3 linked regions of the Homo sapiens genome follow. The protein of the gene in region 3 interacts with the protein of the main gene of each other region in a biochemical or structural test. Each region holds a gene or a part of one and is shown on either strand. Other genes may lie near its edges.

What was found.
Region 1: of the proteins of RFFL (region 3) and RAB11FIP1, one has a biochemical effect on the other in vitro, tested with the Homo sapiens proteins (one study listed by BioGRID).
Region 2: of the proteins of RFFL (region 3) and PRR5L, one has a biochemical effect on the other in vitro, tested with the Homo sapiens proteins (one study listed by BioGRID).

Annotation. Positions count from the first base shown.
Region 1 is NC_000008.11:37,896,446-37,904,511, reverse strand, and holds the start of RAB11FIP1 (rab11 family-interacting protein 1), read left to right. Parts: upstream 1-5,014; 5' UTR 5,015-5,070; coding exon 5,071-5,441; intron 5,442-8,066. UniProt on the Homo sapiens protein: A Rab11 effector protein involved in the endosomal recycling process. Also involved in controlling membrane trafficking along the phagocytic pathway and in phagocytosis. Interaction with RAB14 may function in the process of neurite formation.
Region 2 is NC_000011.10:36,397,191-36,404,293, forward strand, and holds part of PRR5L (proline-rich protein 5-like), read left to right. Parts: intron 1-3,806; 5' UTR 3,807-3,931; coding exon 3,932-4,095; intron 4,096-6,107; coding exon 6,108-6,188; intron 6,189-7,103. UniProt on the Homo sapiens protein: Associates with the mTORC2 complex that regulates cellular processes including survival and organization of the cytoskeleton.
Region 3 is NC_000017.11:35,053,707-35,060,809, reverse strand, and holds part of RFFL (E3 ubiquitin-protein ligase rififylin), read left to right. Parts: intron 1-6,315; exon of another isoform or gene 6,316-6,422; intron 6,423-7,103.

The sequences.
Region 1 (8,066 bases), on a different chromosome or scaffold from region 3:
CAGAGATGGTTTCTGAGCTAGTGTCCCTGCAGCAGGGGCATCAGGGACACTGAAGGGCTCTGGGGGAGTGACTGTCAGGAGGATTCTCTCCCTGGAACCCCTTTTCTCCTCTTCCCCAGCGTGGCCCCAGGGACTCTCTTATGGAAGAGGTGCTTCCCGCTGGTCTAGACACAGCCCTGCCTTCTCATCAGCTCTAACTGCACAGCTCGGCTGCCCAGGGCCATCTAGGTGGCTGGGAGTCCTGGCACTCTCTGCTCTGCTGCTTTTGAAGGAGGACAGGTGTCTCACCTGTCCAGTCTAACCTGCCAGGCTTGTCCATGTGCTCAGGGTTGATTGAAACTCTTCCTCTTTCAGTCCAAGCTGGAGGCAGGGCAGGATGGGAGGAAGGAGCAGCCTTCCTGTTCTGCCGCACCCTGGCTGCGGGAGGTATTTACAAACACTCCTGGAACTCAGTGACCCTGCGCGGGTTCAGCCGGCCAGCATAGCCTGGCCTTTGGGAGTGGGGAGGAGCGGCCACGGTGGAGTCTTCCCAGGGCCAGTGGGGAGCCAGGGGCCTGCAGGGTGCCTGCCTTGTCACTGCCCTTGTTGTTGTCCCTGTGCATCCCCCAGCCTGGATTCTGGGTCTGGAAAATTGGGAGAAGACAGAGGGTGACTCCTGGGCAGAGTCATGGGAACAACGTGCTCTGGGCTGGTGGAGGGGAAAAAACAGCCACCAAACAGCTGGAGGCAGCAAGGCACACCTGGTGCTGGGGCTCCGGCCTCTTCCTTCTCTGAAAAATTTCCAGTTCCTGCCTTGGGAAGCCCCCACTCCTTTGAGCTAACCCCTGCCAGTGGTCAGTGTCTGATGAGAGTGGTCTGGATTTCTCCTGGGTGGTGAGGCAGCTGTGCCTGCCTCCAAACTACCACATCTGCTTTCACCAAAGTCTATTTGTGTCTCACAGAAACTCAAACACATGAGGTCACAGGTACTTCCCCACCCTCTTTGTCCTCTAATCCTTTCCATGGGTGGAAGATATGCTTTGTTTCATACTCAGCTGGGGAGGCTGTCCAGCTAGGTTTTATGCCTTGTTTTCTTTATTGGGGGAGCAGCACTAAAAATGTGAGTGTTGGAGAGGAGGGGGAACTAGAGCTGAAAAACTTCCTCCCAGGCTGAGTTGTTTGTTTGTTTGTTTGTTTTTAAAGACAGGGTCCCACTCTGTTGCTGAGGCTGGAGTGCAGTGGTGCAATCATAGCTCACTGCAGCCTCGAACTCCTGGGCTCCAGCAATCCTCCCACCTCAGCCTCCCTAGTAGCTGGGACTACAGGTGGACGCCACCACACTCAGCTAATTTTTGAAGTTTGTTTTATAGAGACAGAATCTCAGTATGTTGCCCAGGCTGGTCTTGAACTCCTGGGCTCAAGTGATCCTCTAGCCTTGGCCTCTCGAAGTGTTGGGATTACAGGTGTGAGACGCTGTGCCCCACCTCCCCAGGTCAGTTTTGAACTGAAATCTATGACTTTGTCCAGCTGGCGTGTAGTAGAACATTGGACAGGTAGGATAATCAAGAGGAAAGTGTATACCCTCTTATTTAATTCAGTACCAACTTAGAAGAGACTCCAAGATGGGGAAGAGGTAGGCAGATTGGGGCAGAAGGCAGACAATCCCCAGGTGAAAATGAATGAAGGCATCTAGCTGTGACCTGCCTGCCAAGCTGTTGGCTGCTGGACTCCTTCTTCTCATACCTCCCTTGCAATTTGAGAACAGCCTAAGCAGGTCACTGCTCAAAGTTCTCTGAAGGCTGGCTCCCCTGGTCTCAGCCTGGTGTTCTCTGAAGGCTGGCTCCTTAGCCTGGTGTTCATGGTCTGAGCGCAGCCTGTCTTATTTCTGTCTTATTTCTACCACTCATTCTCAGTGGCCTCCTAAAGCATCCTACATTCCAGCCACAATGGGGTATGTGAAACCTGGAAACGCCACGACTCTCTGGTCCCCATATCTTTGCGTAGGCTGTTCTCCTCTTCTCTCCTGAAATGCTCTTCTCATATGTCTCCTCCTGTTTCTGTCAAATCTGATATATCCTTCAGGGCCCAGCTGAGCCCCTCCTACTTCACAAAAATCCACCAACTTACAGAAATCGCTCTCTCCTCAAAACACCCAAAGCATCACAGTAATCAGGACTTCCTTTAGATGATGCTGGAGTGCCTTGGAACTGAGTCTCATTCAGCTTTGTGCACTTGGTAGCACCCGGCACATGCCTGGCACAAAGTAAATGCTCAACAAATCGTAACAGGGTCTCGGTCTATTGCCCAGGCTGGAGTGCAGTGACATAATCATAGCTCACTGTAGCTTCAAACTCCTGGGCTCCAGTAATCCACTCACCTTAGCCTCCTGAGTAGCTGGGACTATAGGTGCGCACTACCATGCCTGGCTAATTATTGGTTTTATTTTTTATCTTTTTGTAGTAACGAGATCTTGCTGTGTTGCCCAGGCTGGTCTTGAAGTCCTGGCTTCAAGTGATCCTCCCACCTCAGCCTCCCAAAGCACTGGGGTTACAGGTATGAGTCACTGCATCTGGCCTCAAGAAGCCTTTATGGAAATTAACTGAGTCATAATGTTGAATGAGTATAATGGATCATCCAGAAGGGAAAATGGCACCAAAACAACACAGTTCTGTTAGGCTTTCTTGCCCCTTCTATGCCTGCTGGCTTCTTTCCCCCACTCCTCCCATCATCGTTACATATTTCCAACATGGCCAGGTGCAGTGGCTCACACCTGTAATCCCAGCACCTTGGGAGGCCGAGGTGGGCAGATCACTTGAGGTCAGGAGTTCAAGACCAGCCTGGCCAACATGGTGAAACCCCATTTCTACTAAAAATACAAAAATTAGCGGGCATGGTGTCGTACATCTGTAATCCTAGCTACTTGGGAGGCTGAGGTACAAGAATCGCTTGAACTTGGGAGGCAGAGGTTGCAGTGAGCTAAGATTGCGCCATTGCACTCCAGCCTGGGAGACAGAGCAAGACTCTGTCTCCAAAAAGAAAAAAAAAAAAGAAAAAAAATATTTCCAACATACTAAACAGGCCTTTCTCACACTGCAGCTGCCCTCAGTTGCAAACCTGAGGCATACCTCTGTCTTCTAATTTCCTACGTGGTAAAAGGAAACACTTGGTCCTCATGGTTGGCCAACTTAACCTGCAAACTCTTGAGTTCAGTAGCACTTCCCGGGTACCTACTGTGCACCCAGGTTTGTGCTGGAGGCTGTGAAGGAGACAAGTTGAATAAGTCACTACCTGGTCCCTGCCCTCAGCAGGGCATAGGAAGTCAAACCTTGGAGAAATATGAGTGAACCCTTGCAGTGGGAGGTTGGCAAAGACAGTCAAGGGTACAACGTAAAGGCCTGGAAGTAAAAAGTGTCTGGGCTACAGGTTTGTTTGTTCGGGAGATAGAGGAGAATGAGGTAGGGTGGGGTCAAAATGGAGTACCTTGAAATCTCTGTTCAGTCCGAAGGTAACGCGGTTGCTGGTGAGGCAGCCAGCAGGTTAGTGAAGCAATGTGCAGTGTGAACCAGAGGGAGGAGAGCCTGGAGATTGGAGGGACACGAGTAGCCATCCAAGATTGGGGTTCTGTGGATCTGGAAGAATCAAGAGATGCACTGAACAGCTGTTTGGGAGTCAGGACACTGGGATCCCAGTCCCAGCTCTGCAGAGGGACCTTGGACATGTCACTCCTCTCTTCTGAGTCTTTCCTTAACTGTAAAACTTTAAAACCTTCCAAGTGACCTTTCCAATCTGATGACTCGTTAAACAGTTGAGCCTTTGAACTAGGACCTGTGAAATGAAGGGAAGCAGCCGATCTATTAGGCATTTGGAACAAGAAAGGGACTGCCTGGGAGCCCAGGGATAGAGGCAGGGAGAGACTAAAGAGGGCCTGGCAAGGGAGAAATGGGGAACTGCGGGCTGGGGGCCTGCCACTGTCCCGATGTTTGATTTGGCAATCCCATTTTCAGTTCCTCCTTTCTTCCCTTTTTCTAACTCAGCCTCGCCTTATCTGGTGGGGGGAGGGCAAAATAGGACACTCCCACATTGAACTCATGCTCCCCAGGATACCTTCCCCTTTTCCGGCCCTCACAAGGTCCTCACCTTCCTCTGCAGCTGCCTTCCTCCAGAGCAAGGCTTTCCAGCGGGAGAAGTAGAAAGCACAGTGAATTGGGTGGGCATCTTCCTTAGCACCCTCATAGTTACCAACTTTATTTTTTTGAGACAGGGTCTTGCTCTGTTGCCCAGGCTGGGAGTGCAGTGGCACGATCTCGGCTCACTGCACCTCGACCTCCTGGGCTCCAGAGATCCTCCAGACTCAGCCTCCCAAGTAGCGGGGACCACAGGCGCTTGCCACCACTCCTATCTAATTATTTTTAATTTTTTTTGTAGAGACGGGGATCTGGCTATGTTGCCCAGGCTGGTCTCGAACTCCTGGGCTCAGGAGATCCTCCTGTCTCAGCCTCCCAACGTGCTGGTCATGGTTATTTACTGAGAACTCACCATGAGCCAGGCACTGGGCCAAGAACTGTAATGCATTATTATTATTATTTTTTACAGCAATCCTAGGAGGTGATTGTCAGGTGAAGAAATTGAGACTTGATGTTAGGTAATCCGCGCAAGGCCACGACTGGCGATGTGACCCTGGAAATGAGGTCTGACTTCCAAGTCAGTGCTTCGGCCAGCTCCTTCCCGCCGTGCGACCTTTGGCAGCTGGGGACCCCATCCGTCACCTACCACCTCTCAGATTAGATTCTCGATGCGCCCGCCCCTGCGCACGTGATCCCCTGCCTGCCTGGCCGCGCCAGCCCCGCCTCCGGCGCCCGGGTGCCCGGAGCTGCCCGCGCTGCTGAGGCCGGCGGGGCGGGGCGGGGCGGGGCGGGGCGCGGCGCAGCAGGTGGAGCAGGCGGCTCGGGCAGGGGCGTGGCCTTGGCCATGAGGGGCGTGGCCTGGCGGGGGTGTGGCCGGAAGCCTTAAAGTGGCCTGGTCGCCGGGGCGGGCCGTGGAGGCCGCCAGTCGCGGCGATCTTCTCCTCGCTTCTGGAGTGTTATCGTCACCATGTCCCTAATGGTCTCGGCTGGCCGGGGCCTGGGGGCCGTGTGGTCCCCAACCCACGTGCAGGTGACGGTGCTGCAGGCGCGGGGCCTGCGGGCCAAGGGCCCCGGGGGCACGAGCGACGCGTACGCGGTGATCCAGGTGGGCAAGGAGAAGTACGCCACCTCCGTGTCGGAGCGCAGCCTGGGCGCGCCCGTGTGGCGCGAGGAGGCCACCTTCGAGCTGCCATCGCTGCTGTCCTCCGGACCCGCGGCCGCCGCCACCCTGCAGCTCACCGTGCTGCACCGCGCGCTGCTCGGCCTCGACAAGTTCCTGGGCCGCGCCGAGGTGGACCTGCGGGATCTGCACCGCGACCAGGGCCGCAGGAAGACGCAGTGAGTGCGGGCGGGGAGGGGAGGGCCCGGCCTGGGGGCGCGGACCCCTCCGGCAGGGCGGTCTGGGCGCTGGACCCTTCGAGAGTAAGCCGGGCAGCAGCGGGGAAGGCCTTTCGGGACGGAGCCCTCGGCCGGTGCTGGTGTTCTCACCTGGCTTCCCCTTCTGCGGCTGTCCCGCCCAGCTCTGCCAGCTTTGGGTCTTCTTGGAAGAAGGGGCCGTATCTGGGGCGCTTTTTTTTTTTTTTTTTTTAGACAGAGTCTCTGTCGCCCGGGCTGGAGTGCAATGGCAATGGCACGATCTCAGCTCACTGCAAACTTCGCCTCGCAGGTTCACGTGATTCTCCTGCCTCAGCCTCCCGAGTAGCTGGGATTACAGGCGCGCACCACCACGCCCGGCTAATTTTTTTTTTTTTTTTTTTGAGACTGAGTCTCACTCTGTCGCCAGGCTGCAGTGCAGTGGCACGATCTCGGCTCACTGCAACCTCCGCCTCCTGGGTTCAAGCGATTCTCCTGCCTGAGCCTCCCGAGTAGCTGGGACTACAGGCGTGCGCCACCACGCCCGGCTAATTTTTGTATTTTTAGTAGAGACGGGGTTTCATCAGATTGGCCAGGATGGTCTTGAACTATTGACCTCGTGATCCACCCACCTCGGCCTCCCAAAGTGCTGGGATTACACGCGTGAGCCACCGCGCCCGGCCCGCCCGGCTAATTTTTGTATTTTTAGTAGAGACGGGGTTTCACCGTGTTGGCCAGGCTGGTCTCGAATTTCTGACTTCAGGTGATCCGCCCACCTCGGCCTCCCAAAGTATTGGGATTACAGGCGTGAGCCACCGCGCCGGGCCTGGGGCGCTTTTGAATCTGCAGGACGCCCCTCAGCGTCTGGCACACAGTAAGCACTAAGTGAATTTTAGATGAATTCCAACTATACGTGGGCAGGTGCCTTCTTCTTACTAGGGTGGTAGCCCGTGTCTGATACTCGCCTTCGCTTGGGTGGAAGGCCTCCTGGGTATTTCACTGAATAGAAGAACACTTCGAGCCGAGAATGACTGGGCCAGGGCGCAGGGCAGAGGAACAGGAGGCATGAAACCAGCTGACACCCCCACCCTAAAGGCTAACCCCGGGCGCAACGCCTTTACAATGCGGGGTGGGTGGAGGTTGGGGGAGGGGAATGGCGTTTGCCGGCTGTCACATGACTTGCTAACCCCTTCCCCTACCTCATACTTGCCTAGGGGGTTGGTGAAGAGAATTTGCCCCTACAGAAAGAATGTTACAACAGTGTGGTGTGTGCCCTGGGCCCCATGTTAGTAAAGATTTCTCCAGGTTGGAAGGAGCCCGGGTGGGCCCTTGACGGAGCAGAACTGGGCATTGTTTCCTTTTGGAGTTGGTAGAGTTCTTCTCTCTGGTCCTAATCCTGGTGGATGTCTGCTCGCCTGTAGCTCCCAAAGATTGTGTCAGGTTATTTCACTTCTGCAGTAAAAACTGGGCAAAAACCATTCACTCCATGATATTACCGAATTATTTGTTTCACAGGTGTTCGGAAAGGGCAGTGCTTCACCCAAAGGAACGTTCGATTATGTTCATCTAGTATGCCAAAGCTAGCCTCGATTAGCTTAGCTGGTTACTTTGTTAGATCTTAAATACACAGGCCAGTCAGTTAGCACCGAAAGCCTATAGTCTAGGAATCACACTGATTTGCTTTGTGTGTTTTAGATATACATAGCCTTTTAACTTTCCCTTCTGTGGGAGACAGGAAAAGCCAGAGGGTTTGTCCTCTGGAGGCTCCCTTTACTGTGGGGTGGGTTCCATTTCAGCATGTAGGCTTGCAAATGGAATATTTGATGATGCAAACTTACCTGGCCAGAGATGAATAGGCATTTCTGAACTCACATCAGATAAAACTAGCCTTGATGTGAGGATGGATGGGGTATCTCACAGCATCAATTTACAAGCCATAAGGTGAGCAGTGTTTTTGCTAAGGAGGGGCTGCAGCAATGCTGATCTTCCATCTGATTAAATGACACTGGGGGTGGTGGGTTGGCTTCCCTTCAGCTTCAAATGGGTGCTGTTGGCCATCCGTTGTCTTGCGCCATCCCAACATGTGTGTATTCACTTCCTTCTCTGCCACCTGTTTCTTATGTGGACATTTTATCCCCTTGAGAGGTAGATCACATCTCCCTGCCAGAGATGGAGATTCCAGAGTCCTGGGTCCAGTGCCCACAGCAGCCCTGACTCATTGTTGGGCTTCTCTGTCCCTAAACACCCAAGTTTCTCTATTTGTAAATAGAGCATGTTGCCAGACTTAATTGATGTTTGTAAGATGTTTCTGGGTTCCTGGATTAATGGGGCCAATGTATCCAAGAAGTGATTGAAAAGGTTGGCAACTGCTTTGTGAGAGATTGAAACCTTGAGCTCTCTTTTTTTCAGGAAGAGTTCAGTCTCTGCATCTTCATTTTTCTTATTTTATCCAATGTAACCCTAAACCTATACAATAACTCCCACCTATTATGTGAACCGATTACCACCTAGTCACAGTATTGACTTCCAGGAAAATGGTGCTTAGTTGATTTTTTTTTCTTTCTTAAAATAACTGCAAAGGAAGGCTTCTTTGCATCTCTATGGGTAGAT
Region 2 (7,103 bases), on a different chromosome or scaffold from region 3:
CTGAGTAGCTAGGATTACAGGCACGCCAACACGCCCAGCTAATTTTTGTATTTTTAGTCGAGACAGGGTTTCACCGTGTTGGTCAGTCTGATTTCGAACTCCTGCCCTCGAGATCTACCCATCTTGGCCTCCCAAAGTGCTGGGACTACAGGCATGAGCCACTGTGCCCAGCTCAACTGGTATTTTGTGAGGGTTGAGTAAGTTTATGTATTGTGACAATGCTTGGCTTCATGTCAGCCAGGCAGCCGATGCCTTTTTTTTTTTTTTTTTTTTTTTTTTTTTTGAGAGAGAAGCCTTGCTTTGTTGCCCAGGCTGGAGTGCAGTGGTGCCATCTTGGCTCACTGCAACCTCCACCTCTCGGATTCAAGCGATTCTCCTGCCTCAGCCTCCTGAGCAGCTGAGACTACAGGCACGCACCACCATGCCCGGCTAATTTTTGTACTTTTAATAGAGACAGGGTTTTGCCATATTGACCAGGCTGATCTCGAACTCCTGACCTCAGGTGATCCGCCTGCCTTGGCCGGGATTACAGACGTGAGTGACTGTGCCTGGCCTAGCCAATGCCTTCTTAATTCTTTTCCTTCATCTTTTTCTTTCTTTTCTTTCTTTTTTTGTTTTTTTTTGAGACGAGTTTCGCTCTTGTTGCCCAGGCTATAGTGCAATGGCACGATCTCGGATCACCGCAACCTCTGCCTCTCAGGTTCAAGCGATTCTCCTGCCTCAGCCCCCCGAGTCGCCGGGATTAAAGGCATGCGCCCCCATGCCCGGCTCATTTTGTATTTTTAGTAGAGATGGGGTTTCTCCATGTTGGTCAGGCTGGTCTCGAACTCCTGACCTCAGGTGATCCACCCACCTCGGCCTCCCAAAGTGCTGGGATTCCAGGCTAAGCAGTGAGCTTAGTCTTGAGGATATAGAGGTGAATAAAGCCCGATGCCTGTCTTCAAGGAATTTGCAGAATGGCCTAGGTGGGAGCTGGGGAACATGCTCAAACAGGTGTCGGGGAATAGCTCTCACAGTCCTGGCTCTCTTCCTGCCTCGAGCACCTTGGATGTGTTTCTTTGCTTCTTTGCTATACCTTTGTCATCTGTCAATGGGACCTGGACTGGCCCCACTCCGAGGCCCCATCTGTTCTGTCATTTTCTGACTTGTCAGATATAGGTCAGGACAGGCCCGCGCCTGCCGGGCCAGCGCTGTAGCAGGTGAACCCAGGGTGTATCAGCGTTTCCCTTTAGGCCACTCTTGTCAATGCTCCCAACGGCCTCCTCCTTCCTCCCTGTGCTGCTCTGGGGAGGTCTCTTGGCTCTGCCCGGCAGTAGGAACAGTGGAGACAAAGACAGCTTCACATTCTCTTCAGCTGTCAGGATTGAGAGTGGCGGATTCGGGAGGAGAAAAATGAGTCAGTGGCAACTCGTTGTGTGTGACTGTGCAGTTTATCTGAGTCCGCGGGAGCCATAGTCGTAGGCTGAAAATGACCCTTATTTAAGAGAGGCTGAGTGCGTGGTTGTGGCTGCCCAGGCGCTTTGCTGGACTAGGCAGCCTGGGAACACTAACTGAGAAGTGGACGGGGACAGGAGCCAGCCTGCGGTCCTCAGTGTCTTACAGTTTCCTGGAGAAGTGGATGTTTCGGCAGGAAGATGGTGGGTAAACACCTGGAACGATCCATTCTGCTCACTTTTCTACTTCCCTGTACCAGTGCCATGGAATGAGAGGCAGCTCCATTAACTCGTTTAAGATCCTCATAAAGGGAGTTAATATCCTGTAATTACACAGGTGAATTGCATTTAGCAGGTCCATTTGAAGAATGGCAGCGAAATGGATCCTGTCTTAGTAGTGTGACCTTTACTGGGTGAGTTAAATCCCAAAGCTAGCCAATTTAAGGATATGGAAGGACCTTCTGTGGCTTTATTTCTTCATCACCTCATTTTTTGGTTTGTGTAGATCTTTCCACGTTGCAGTGGCATTTATGAAGCTGCTGAGGCCTTCTGAAACTTGACAGCCTGTTATGCTTCTTTTGTTAATAAAGTTTAACAAAACTGTTGAACTCATTCTGAGCAGGGGGTGAAGGGGCAAAGACTGTACAGGAAAACAGGACATAAGTCTGCTTTCCTTAAAAGAAAAAAGTTAAGAGACAGGACAAGCCATTTCTTTTCTGCCTCTTCGTATTACAAGTTCCTTGTTGCTATGCCTGTTGCCTGCAGATAGCTGCTAACACCTCCCGTGCCCTCTCGATGGCTTGCCTCCATGCCCATCTGAGTGGCTTAACTCACTCTTCTGACCACAACAGCATGTTTGATTTGGAGGTGAGACTTCGGTTCCTCCTTCTTCAAGTGCTAACCAGCTGGAGCTGCAAAAATCTTCTCCCCTGGCAACCTGAAGGTTGACTTAAGGCTAGAATATCTTTTTCTTGCATCATTAGTTTTTGGGACATAGCAGAGTTAGCTGGTGAGAGAGATGGCAGTGAAAACACTTCTGGGCTAAACCTACTAAACCGTCAAGTAAAAAGTGACTATGAGATTCGTGGTGTTTCCTTTTGTCCTTCACTCTGCTGAACTCTAATTCTCGCCTTTTAAGTCATTCATTTAGACTTTAGAGTCACTAAAGAATAAGAGACTGAAATTACAGGTCCAAAGGTGTAAAGGAAAGAAAGAAATTCATCTGAATGGAAATAGCCAGTCCTTGAGGCCCATGGCTCCGCCATTCTGCCAGCCATGTCACATGATCTCATTTCATCTCTCCAGTCCTGGAAAGTGGGCATTAGTAACAGCTGAGGACTTCAGACTCAGTGTGTTCAAAGTCACACAACTTGGGAGTGGCCAAGTTAAGACTCAAACCTGAAGCCACTGCCTTTAACCGCGAAGCCATGAAGTCTCCCAGCAACTGCTACAAGGGGACAGTGTCCTTGAACCCAACCCTGCAGGGCGAGTTGGGTTTAAATAAGCAGAGGGAAAAAGGAAGAGAATTCTGGGCAAGAGGAGTAGTTGGTACGAGCAAAAGTGTGGGGGAAGGACTGTGCATGACATAGAAGAGTGCCTGCTGGTTGCGAGCTCCACGGGGCAGGGCACCAGGGCCTCTGGAGCCATCTTATATCTCCCAGTGCCTGAGTGGCTATGCATAGTAGCTGCTCAATAAATATTTATTGCATGAGTGAATACTTGAAAAGACTGTTATCTTCTCCATAGGCTGAGTACCCTGAGAGCAGGGATTTGGTCTTAGAAATCTTTGGATGTTCTGCAACTCACAGTGGTTAATAAATAGCAAACACTCAGTGAGTGTGTCCTGATGAAATGAGTGAAGGAACAGCAGGTAAGGGAAGGTGAGATGTGCTTGAGTGAAGAGTCACTGATACTTTGAGAAAAACTGAGCAATATATGCAGACTGGCTTGGTAAGGGCATATCATGGATGGTCATCAATGCCAGGATGAGGAGCTCTTGTGTCCTCCTTGAGACATTTTTTAAAAATCCATCTCTTACTGCACAACATCGTGGGCCACAGGAACCCAGGCAGTGCTCAAACTGATGGCTGCATATTGGAACCAGAGTCTAGCACAGCTTAGAAATCATTTTTCTGCAGGACTGGCCTTAGGCTGGCCCCATTGTCACTGTCTTCCCACTTGAGGGTGACCACACTGTTACAACCGAAAAGAGCCCTGTGCAAACTTGTGAATGGGAACCTGCCAGGGAATAGATGCTATTGCTGGGTCCCGCAGTTGTTTTCGGGGTAGTTAGGCTGGAAAGTCCCAGCCAACTTCCTCTAAGAGGTGTTCTCAGGCCAGGAGTTCTCAATAAAAGCTTCCCTCTCTTTTCAGGTGTTGGCTACGTTTGTGGTTTTAAGAAAGCCTGAGGGCCTGAAGGCAGCCCCTGGAGAAGCCCTTTCCGAGGGCATTCGGAACCTTCTGGTCCTAGAGGTGAAGCTGAACTGTCACCAGGACTTATGACCCGCGGCTTCGCTCCCATTCTGCCCGTCGAGTTCCACAAGATGGGCTCCTTCCGCAGGCCTAGACCGCGCTTCATGAGCTCCCCCGTGCTCAGCGACCTTCCCCGATTCCAAGCAGCTCGGCAGGCTCTGCAGCTGAGCTCCAGCTCAGCCTGGAACAGGTGAAGGAGGCTGCAGGATGTGGGGTGGAGGGCTGCCAAGGGCCATGGCAGGGAGGGAGGCATCCGGGGGCTGACTGAGCTTCTGCTGATTCTGGGAAGGCCGTGATTATGGGGGTAAATAATGACGAGAGCAAATTTTCTTTTTTTCCTTTTTTAAGAGACAGGGTCTCACTCTGTCACCCAGGCTGGAGTGCAGTCGTGCAATTATAGTTCACTGCAGCCTCAAACTTCTGGGCTCGGGCGATCCTCCTGCCCCAGCCTCCCGAGTAGCTGGGACTACAGGCACATGCCACCACACCCAGCTAATTAAAAAAGCAATTTTTTTTTAAAGAGATGGGGTCTCACTATACTGCCCAGGCTGGCCTTGAACTCCTGGCCTCAAGGGATCACTCCCACCTCGGCCTTCCAAAGCGCTGGGATTATGGGTGTGAGCTACTGCACCTGGCCAAGAGAGCAAGTTTTTTTTAATATCCAGCGTGTCTGTTAGCTTTCTTTGTTTCAGTAGCCAGAAAATAGACCACTGAGGGCCTCTGGCCTGTTAGAGTCAGTTTACCAGACTGGGACAGTTGCACTGGAATTTACGGTCACTATTCATGCTCATTAGTCACACCTGAAACTGTCAGCCTATCCGAGAGTGGGCTTCTATAAGAAACCTTAAGTAACCTACTTCCCACTTGGGAAGATAAAACATGTCTGTGAAAAATTAAATGATTGGCATAAACCCAAGATTATGAAGACCTGTGAGCCACAGGTGCTTGGAAGAGGAGGCACAGAGTTTTGTTAGGTGTCTAGCCAACCTTTTGTGCACCAAGAATTGAGCAGACTGAATCAGCACTATGTCTTATATGCTTGTGGGCTACTGTTTTTCAAATCTTTGCAGACACTGTTTGGAGTAATTAAATGCATCATTATTTTGAAGCATGACTGAATTCTTTGTAGTTTGGATCGTTATGGATCTTTTCTCTTTTTTCTTTTCTTGAGACAATCTTGCTCTGTTACCCAGGCTGGAGTGCAGTGGTGCAATCTTGGCTAACTGCAATCTCTGCCTCCCAGGTTCAAGCGATTCTCCTGCCTCAGCCTCCTAAGTAGCTGGGTTTACAAGTGCGTGCCACCACACCTGACTGATTTTGTATTTTTAGTAGAGACGGGATTTCACCATGTTGGCCAGACTGGTCTCGAACTCCTGACCTCAAGTGATCCACCTGCCTCTGCCTCCCAAAGTGCTGGGATTACAGGCGTGAGCCACTGTGCCCAGCCCATTATGGATATTTTAAATGAATGGACACAGAAAGCAGGACTCTGATGATAGGGATGGAGAGAGGGGGCTCCAAAATGTTTTGGTGTTAAATGGATCCCTGTTCTTTAAAGGAAAGGCCAGGGGCCTTAATATAGACAAGATTGTAAGCAGCTCCTTTGCTGAAACACTGGGCTGTCGTCCCAGAGGCTGTGGAGTAAGCCCTGATATGGCCTCTCAAGGGACTAACTCTACTGCCGGTACACCTCACACGAGTGGACATGTGAGGAGCCTGTAAGGCTGGCCTGCGAGAAATTCTTCCAAGGAAAGTGCTGTTAAAAAGGAAAGGACTTACCGGTTCATGTTAGCTCAAGGCCACCAAGCTTCCCTGTGAAGACAGTGGCTGTGAAAGAACCGCAGGCATGGGTCAGCTTCTGCTTGCAGGAAATGCCATTTGGAATCTCCCAGGTCCATGCAGTTTCCTGCGATCAGATCCCACTGGCTGCCTTTGACTGTGGCTGCACCAGCAGGGCCGCCAGCGAGGTGAGGGAGGAAGACCTGCTGGCTTGCAAGAAAGCGGGGGCTGCTTTTGAGTCCTTTCGCCTTTGGTCTTCCTTTCTCTCCAAGGACACTGAGGAAATGGAGGATGGATGGAGAGTGTGGCCAGGTTTGTGCTATGAGCTTCCTGGTCACTCCACACACCTTCAGCCCTGAGCTGCTATTGAAATGGCCCAAGAAGGGAGATTCTCTAACCAGGGGTTATTCTCTTTTCCTGTAGCGTTCAGACTGCTGTGATCAACGTTTTCAAAGGGGGTGGCTTGCAAAGCAACGAGCTCTATGCCCTGAACGAAAACATCAGGTATGTGGCAGGCCAGACTTGGTGCCATTTTCCCCTATAAACCTGAGCAGGGGCATAGGGGCTACCGCCTTAGGAGCCTTAAGGGTTTTTTTTTTTTTTTTCCTGCTTGATTCTTATTGCTTCTTCTGTCAGCTATGCTGCTTTCATGGCTGTTGCGTTCTGAGACCTGTGTCTGTCTAGACTTCTGATCCATAGAGAATCATTTGTTCAGTATGTAGTGTGTTTTGTAGGGGAAGGGGTGGAGAGTTGATAGATGGCAGCTGTCATTTATTCTGTAAGCATTTATTGTGCCCTTCCTAACCATTAGGCACCATAATAGGCAATTCAGCTTAGTTGTTGGAACCAGACTGCTTGAGGTTTTATTGTGTTCTTCCTTTTACTAAGTGACTTACCAGCAAACATTTGAGTGCGTCTCTGTTGGCCAGGCACTGGAGAGACAGCAAGGACCAAAGACAGACATGGACCTTGCCCTCCTGGAATTTATATTCATTGGGAAGAGAATCATTAGTCAACTAGCCACACATGTGAAATGTAAACATGCAACTAAGACAGCTACTCCAACACAGCTGCTGTGATGAAAGCATATGTTAAAATGACTTGATTTTTGTCAAGGAGGCCAGGAATGGTGGATGTGATGCTGCTGCTGTGATCTGAAACATCCATGGAAATTACCTAGGTGAACAGGGCTCCAGTTGGTAGAAACTGCGCATGCAAAGTTCCTCTGGTTGCAATGAGCAAGGAACCAAAAGAAGGCCCATCCATGTGCATAGAGCACCAGAAGTTGAGTAGTTGTGCAGTTAGGTCTATGTTTTGGTGAAATGAGAGCAGCAAGTCAGGCAGGGCTCAGAGCACCAGGATCTTCTAGGGACAGGAGATCGATCCATCAGGTCTTTTTTTTTTTTTTTTTTTTTTAAA
Region 3 (7,103 bases):
AGAGTGGCTGACGTGGATCTCCGGGCTCAAACCGTTATTCTTTGCAATATTAGAAGCTTTTTTGTTAGATGGCATGGTTTTTCATTCCTATTTGATGAACATGAGCCCATGGCTGCTTATTTTGTATGTGTTACCTGCCACCATCAAGTAATCATTCAAAGTTAATTTGAAGATTTAAAGGGTTTGCTGAGATCTAGTCCCGCAATATCACGACATTTTTATGGTGTTTTACAAAATTATTTCCCTCATATGGTTTTATTTGCGTTGGGTAGGCTTTATTTATTATCCCTATTTTACCAGTGATTATAAAGCTAGTCTGATACCAAAGCATATATACATTTAGGTAAGACTCAGAGAGAAAACATGGTTCTTACACTGCATTAAGCAGCTGGTTTGTCTCTTAATATAGTAGTTAAATATACTCTATCAGGTTCCACAGAAATGGTGCCTTTGCTCGATAGGCAAGTGCTAACGGTCTTGCCTTTTACAAGGCCACTTTATCATCAAGGTAGGAGGAGGAGGTACTCTGAACCTGCCTGACCTATGGGAAGGCCCTGGTTGTGGTTAGAGACCTTGATTGAAATTAATGGTGTGCGTACTCCAACCTCTCAGGTTTTTCTTTTATACTTCAAATATCTGGAAGTTGTGAAAACCTGCTGCCCTGGTGGAGTATCAAACCAGGCTGGTGAGTGAAAGCGGTCATCCCAAAATGGAGTAAGCTGAGTGTTAAGGGCAGAAAACCTTTTACAGTTATAGTAAGTAATTAACTTTTTAGATCACTTCACAACTTTTGGAGTGCTAAAATGCCATATTTGGGACTATGAGAAATTCCATTATAAAAAGCTGAACCATTAGAGCTAGGAAATAATCTCTGTTAGATATTGGCATATGGTGTTCAATTTTGGGTCTCTCATACTTGAGAGGATAATTAAAATGATTAAAAGGTTGAAAAACAGGTCTTATCATTATAAGTTTTAAAAAGGGGGGAAAGATTTTAGCCTAGAGAAAGAAAAGCTAAGAGATAACTTCATTATCATCTTCAAATACAAGAATAGTTTTGCCAGGGGGATTTTTATTAATTATTCTTCATGAACTTCAAAGATTTAAGAGGAAATGGTCTTAAATTGAAGGAGGAGCAATTTTGATGAATACGAGAAAGAATTTTTTGATCATCAAAGTGGGGAAATGTTTGAATGACTGCCCAAGAGAGTGTTGAATTTCTGACTGTTTCAGTTGTCTATTGTGTGACAAATTACCCGAAGACTTTTGGTGGCATAACATGACAACCATTTTATTGCCTATGATTTTGTGGGTTAGTAATTCAGGAAAGGAGGACATATTTTTTTTTGTCCCATATGATGCTGATTGAGCTGGAGGATCCAAGAAGGCTGCACATGTCTGTACCTTTGGAGCTAGCTGTTGGCTGGGATATCTTGGTTCTCTGTGAGTTCTCTTTCTTGGTCTCTCATCACTTATAAACCTATATCGAGTGGCCGAGCGCAGTGGCTCATGCCTGTAATCTCAGCACTTTGGGAGGCCGAGGTGAGTGGATCACCTGAGGTCGGGAGTTCCAGACCAGCCTGACCAACATGGTGAAACCCCGTCTCTACTAAAAATACAAAAATTAGCTGGGTATGGTGGTGGGCACCTGTAATCCCACCTACTTGGGAGGCCGAGGCAGGAGAATTGCTTGAACATGGGAGGCGGAGGTTGCAGTGAGCCAAGATTGTGCCATTGCACTCCAACCTGGGTGACAGAGCGAGACCGTCTCAAAAAAAAAAAAAAAAAAAAATTCTAGCTCGAGCTTCTTTTACATGGTGGCTGGGCCATAATGGAAGCTGCAGGATCTCATAAGACCTAGGCCTGGCAGTCATACATCATCACTTTTGCCCCATTCTTTTTGTCAGAGTAAGTCACAATTATAGCCCAGATACAAGAGGAGGGGACATTGACTTCACCTCTAAAGGATAGAGGGTAAAAATCACATTGCAAAAGGGCATGCAATGTGATTGGGATTATTACTACCAACTTTATTTTTTGAAACAGAGTCTCGCTCTGTCACCCAGGCTGGAGTGCAGTGGCGCAATCTCGGCTCACTGCAACCTTTGCCTCCCGGGTTCAAGTGATTCTCTTGCCTCAGCCTCCTGAGTAGCTGGGATTACAGTTGCTTGCCACCACGCCTGGCTAATTTTTGTATTTTTAGTAGATACGGGGTTTCACCATGTTGGTCAGGCTGGTCTTGAACTCCTGACCTTATGATCTGCCCGCCTTGGCCTCCCAAAGTGCTGGGATTACAGGCGTGAGCCACCGCACCTGGCCTACCACCAATTTTAGATACAATTTACCACACTGACCTTAGAGATTTTTCATGAAAGAATAATCAATATATGTTTATTAAATGGGTAGTTTGGGCATATGATTTACAAATTTGGCTGCATATAGAGTCATCTGGGAGCTTTTTACAAGCATAAGCTCCTAGGTACCAGACCAGTGACTCAGTGTCTCCTGGGGGTGTTGTGTTGGCACATAAGAGACACTCTATGTCCTTTCTTTCAGGTAACTATCAGTAAAATGAGTATGGTGGGGGGGGATAGATAGATATAATATGTAAGGCAAGATGATATGTACATTGAGATAGATCTCATCTCTCCTGCTTCTAGGACTTGATTGAATCCTATCTAGCATGCTCTTCTTTCCAGTCTGCCTAGTGTAAATTATATTTCATTAAATCAGCCCATCATCAGAACAGTGTTTCTTGATGCCTCTCATTTTTTTCTCATGTTTTCTGGCATTTTTCCTTCATTACTTTTTTTTTAGTTCATAATTCAATATTTATATGATTGTTTGATGTATAATAGACAAAAATACATCTGCTTTGCTTTCGAGTATCTAACATAGTGTCTGCCTCATAAAAGGCACTCAGTAAGTACTTGTTGAATGAATAAGTGGTTGATTGAATGCATGATTGAATGAAGTGATATTTGAATTTAGCTTTAAAGGTGATTGGAATTTTGGACAGGTAGAGCAAATGAATGGGAAATTTATTGTTCTGAAGTGGAAACTGGATCATATTGCTCATGTAATTTCAGAAAACTGGAGAAACTGGTTTGGGAAAATGGAAGAGTTGGTTTTATATCTAGTATGCTAAGTTTGAGGTATGGAAATTTAGCAGGCATTTAGAAATGAAGCACTGATCTGAAGGGTGAGATTGATTCCAGATATTCACTTTTGGGAGTTACCTGACTGGAGAATGTGAAATCTGTTCCTTTCACAAATACCTGGTAAGCTCCTACTGTGTGCCAGACAGCTATGTTATAGGGAAGGTGAACTGCAGTCTGAGAAGGAGCCAGTCTTGTGAAAAGAGCTAGGGAGAATGTTTCAGCCAGAAAAGGAACCCAAGTTTGTAGGCCCTGGGGCAATAAATAATTTATAATTTTTGAGGAATTGAAGGAAGGTGACCGAAGGACAGAGCAAGGTGAGTGAAGTGGGAGAGCTGCATGAGGTAAAGTGGAAAAGGCAAGCAGAGCCCACATCACATGGGGACTTTGTGGGCTAGATAGTGAGTCTAGCCTTCACTCAAAAGTGTGGTGGGGCTGGGCATGGTGGCTCACACCTGTAATCCTAGCACTTTGGGAGGCTGAGGCAGGTGGATCACCTGAGGTCAGGAGTTTGAGACCAGCCTGGTCAACGTGGTGAAACCCCATCTCTACTAAAAATATAAAAAATTTTAGCCAGGCATGGTGGCTTATGCCTGTAATCCGTGCTACTCGGGAGGCTGAGGCAGGAGAATTGTTGGAACCCGGGAGGTGGATGTTGCAGTGAGCCGAGGTTGCACCACTGTACTCCAGCCTGGGTAACAAAAGTGAAAACTCTGTCTCAAAAAAAAAGAAAAAGAAAAAAAAAAAGGGTGGTGGGACACCATTGAAGGCTTAAAACAGAAAGTGACAAGCAAAGATTCTTTTTCTAAATAAAAGGTTACCCTGGCTACTCTGTAGAGAATAGAGAGTCACAAAGAAGGGACCAGTAAGGAAGTGTTTGTCTCCCTTCTTGAGAAGGATCATCGCAGATAGGGCAGGATATGGCAGTGGACATAGAACGGGATAGTTGCAGGATGCATTTAAAAAGTAGAACCAGGCTGGGCATGGTGGCTCACGCCTGTAATCCCAGCACTTTGGGAGGCTGAAGTGGGCAGATCACCTGAGGTCAGGAGTTTGAGACCAGCCTGACCAACATGGAGAAATCCCGTCTCTACTAAAAATACAAAATTAGCCGGGCGTGGTGGTGCATGCCTGTAATCCCAGCTACTCAGAAGGCTGAGGCAGGAGAATCATTTGAACCCAGGAGGCGGAGGTTGTGGTGAGCCGAGATCATGCCACTGCATTCCAGCCTGGGCAACAGAGCAAAACTTTGTCTCAAAAAAAAAAAAAAAAAAAAGTAGAAGTAAAATTCACTAGAGAAGGAAAGGAAGAAGGAAGAGTATGGAGTACAGAACCCTAGGGCCTATGTAGGGGGCAAAAGAAGGAACCAGGGAAGGAAAATAAGGGAGCAAGAGTGGTCATTGATGTCAAAGGTAAGTCAGGCTACCACGCTTGCAGTGGGAGCCAGTGTGGGAGAAGGAGTCTGTAAGGGGAATTCAAGTGTATCCAGAGTAAGTGTGCTGTCTGATGTGTGGCAAGTCAATACCCAAGACCTGGGGGCGGGGTTTATTTGTTGGGCTGCAGAATGAGGAGATGAGAGGGAACTGCAAATCCGTCCTCCTGAGGAGTTTGGAGCTAGGGTTTTTAAGGATTTTGGAGTGGGCTGGAATGTGGAGATTGTTGGGTGGTCAGAGAGAGAAAGGTGAAGTAATGGGACCCGGAGATGAAAAAACTGTATTATGCTGATTTTATTTCTCTCTGAGGGTCTTCAAACTGGTTGGCATCAGCTGTTTTACCAGAATTTGGGATCTGAAAAATATCTCAAGCAATTCTTAAAAAAAAAGCCTTATGCTTCTAATGTCAGAGATACTATCTTTAGAAACAATAGGGATGCAAATGGTCAGTATCTAGCGCTGTGTGACTTTCAGTTACAAGGAAATGTGTCAAAATCCAGCCTGATTAATGTTTTTTTTTTGTTTGTTTGTTTGTTTGTTTTTTTTTGAGATGGAGTTTTGCTCTTGTGGCCCAGGCTGGAGTGCAATGGCATGATCTCGGCTCACTGCAACCTCTGCCTCCTGGGTTCAAGTGATTCTCCTGCCTCAGCCTCCTGAGTAGCTAGACTACAGGTGTGTGCCACCACACCTGGCTAATTTTGTATTTTTAGTAGAGATGGGTTTTCACCGTTTTGGCCAGGCTGGTCTCAAACTCCTGACCTCAGGTGATCCGCCCACCTTGGCCTCCCAAAGTGCTGGGATTACAGGTGAGCCATCGCACCTGGCCTAATGCTTAATTAAAGTTATATTTCTGTCCATAGTTCTTGGTAACCCTCTGAAGACAGCTTCATAATGAAGAATTTGGGTAGGTTTTGGGTGCATGGGGCTTCAGGGAGTCATGAAGGTTGAGGACATAGGAAAGAATCACACATTTATCCATCAGAAGATCATTGGTGACCATTGGCCGGGCGCTGTGGCTCACGCCTGTAATCCCAGCACTTTGGGAGGCCGAGGCAAGTGGATCACGAGGTCAGGAGATCGAGACCATCTTGGCTAACACGGTGAAACCCCGTGTCTACTAAAAATACAAAAAAATTGGCCAGGCGTGCTGGTGGGCACCCGTAGTCCCAGCTACTCAGGAGGCTGAGGCAGGAGAATGGCGTGAACCCGGGAGGTGGAGCTTGCAGTGAGCCAAAATCGCGCCACTGCACTCCAGCCTGGGCAACAAAGCAAGACTCAATCTCAAAAAAAAAAAAAAAGCTGTTGGATCGGTGTTTACTAAGCACCTACTCTAAGCCTGTCACTGTGTTAGTGTTAAGGATTTGTGTGAATGACCTCTTTTAGGTACTTCATTTTACAGATGAGAAAAATGACGCTTAGGGAATTAATCACCTTAACAGGTCACACAGAAAGAAGACTATGAGTTCTGTCTGACCCAGGCCCCATGCTCCTAAACCTTGCATGACACTGCTCTTTGGAAAGCCCTATCAGGACATCAGCTAGAGAGGAATGAAAGGTTTTTAGAGCCCAGTGATGGCTTACCCCAGCTGTATGAATTTGTTAGCAACCCAGTTAAATAAAGTCTTCTGATTTTTCTATAGTAATCTGGCAGTTTAGGAATGGAGAGGTGGGGGAGGGAGGGGAAGATAAAAGATAGAGTAAGAGTTCAGTAAATTAGAAAGGGGATTATTTTGTTGTTCATAAGTGTAATGATTGGATTTTCATGCACATGTATGAGATGTGCCTCCATCAAGCCTTGTTACTACAAAGTCAGTGCATTACCCATCTGATGTGGGAAAAATAAATCAGAAAGAGGCCTCAGCTTGTGGGAATGGTGGAATGCAATGGCTTGTGTTGTTAAGCAAAATTGTGTTTTACAGTAAATATTTATTGTGGTTCTTTTGATGCAAGTTATATTGGGATATGGAGGAAAATGCAAAAATGGATAAGATGGTGTATTTGACCTCTACACGGTTAGAGAGGAAGGTAAAGTGCTTCACTATAGTGCTTGATTGAAGGGTATGACAGGGGTGGAAGGTGGAGAAGTATGGGAAAGTATTATACAAGTTAGCTTGTAGAGCGAGGGTGGCATTAGGTAGGGCTGGCCAGGGTGGTGCCAATCTAGCTTCTCAGGATGACCCCTCAGGATTTTGGTCACTGTGTCGTCAGTCTAGTCTTGGGTCACAAAATGTATTTTGTGGAGAACCTGGAAATAATTAGTCTTGAAGACAGGATTGTATTCAGACTTGAGTGATTGAGCTCAGAATGGAATGCCAATTTATTATTTTAGAATGAAGGATTCCTTTTCCGTTAACGGGATTCTGGAATTTGTTAGGATAATTGCTTTTCAATATCAAGAGATCTGGCAATCAAATTTAATAATATCAAGCTTGCTTGGTGAGCATGGATTTATAAGATAGAATGGTTTGTGGGGGAGAATATAGTTACAAAAAAGATTATTGTTTCCCATAAT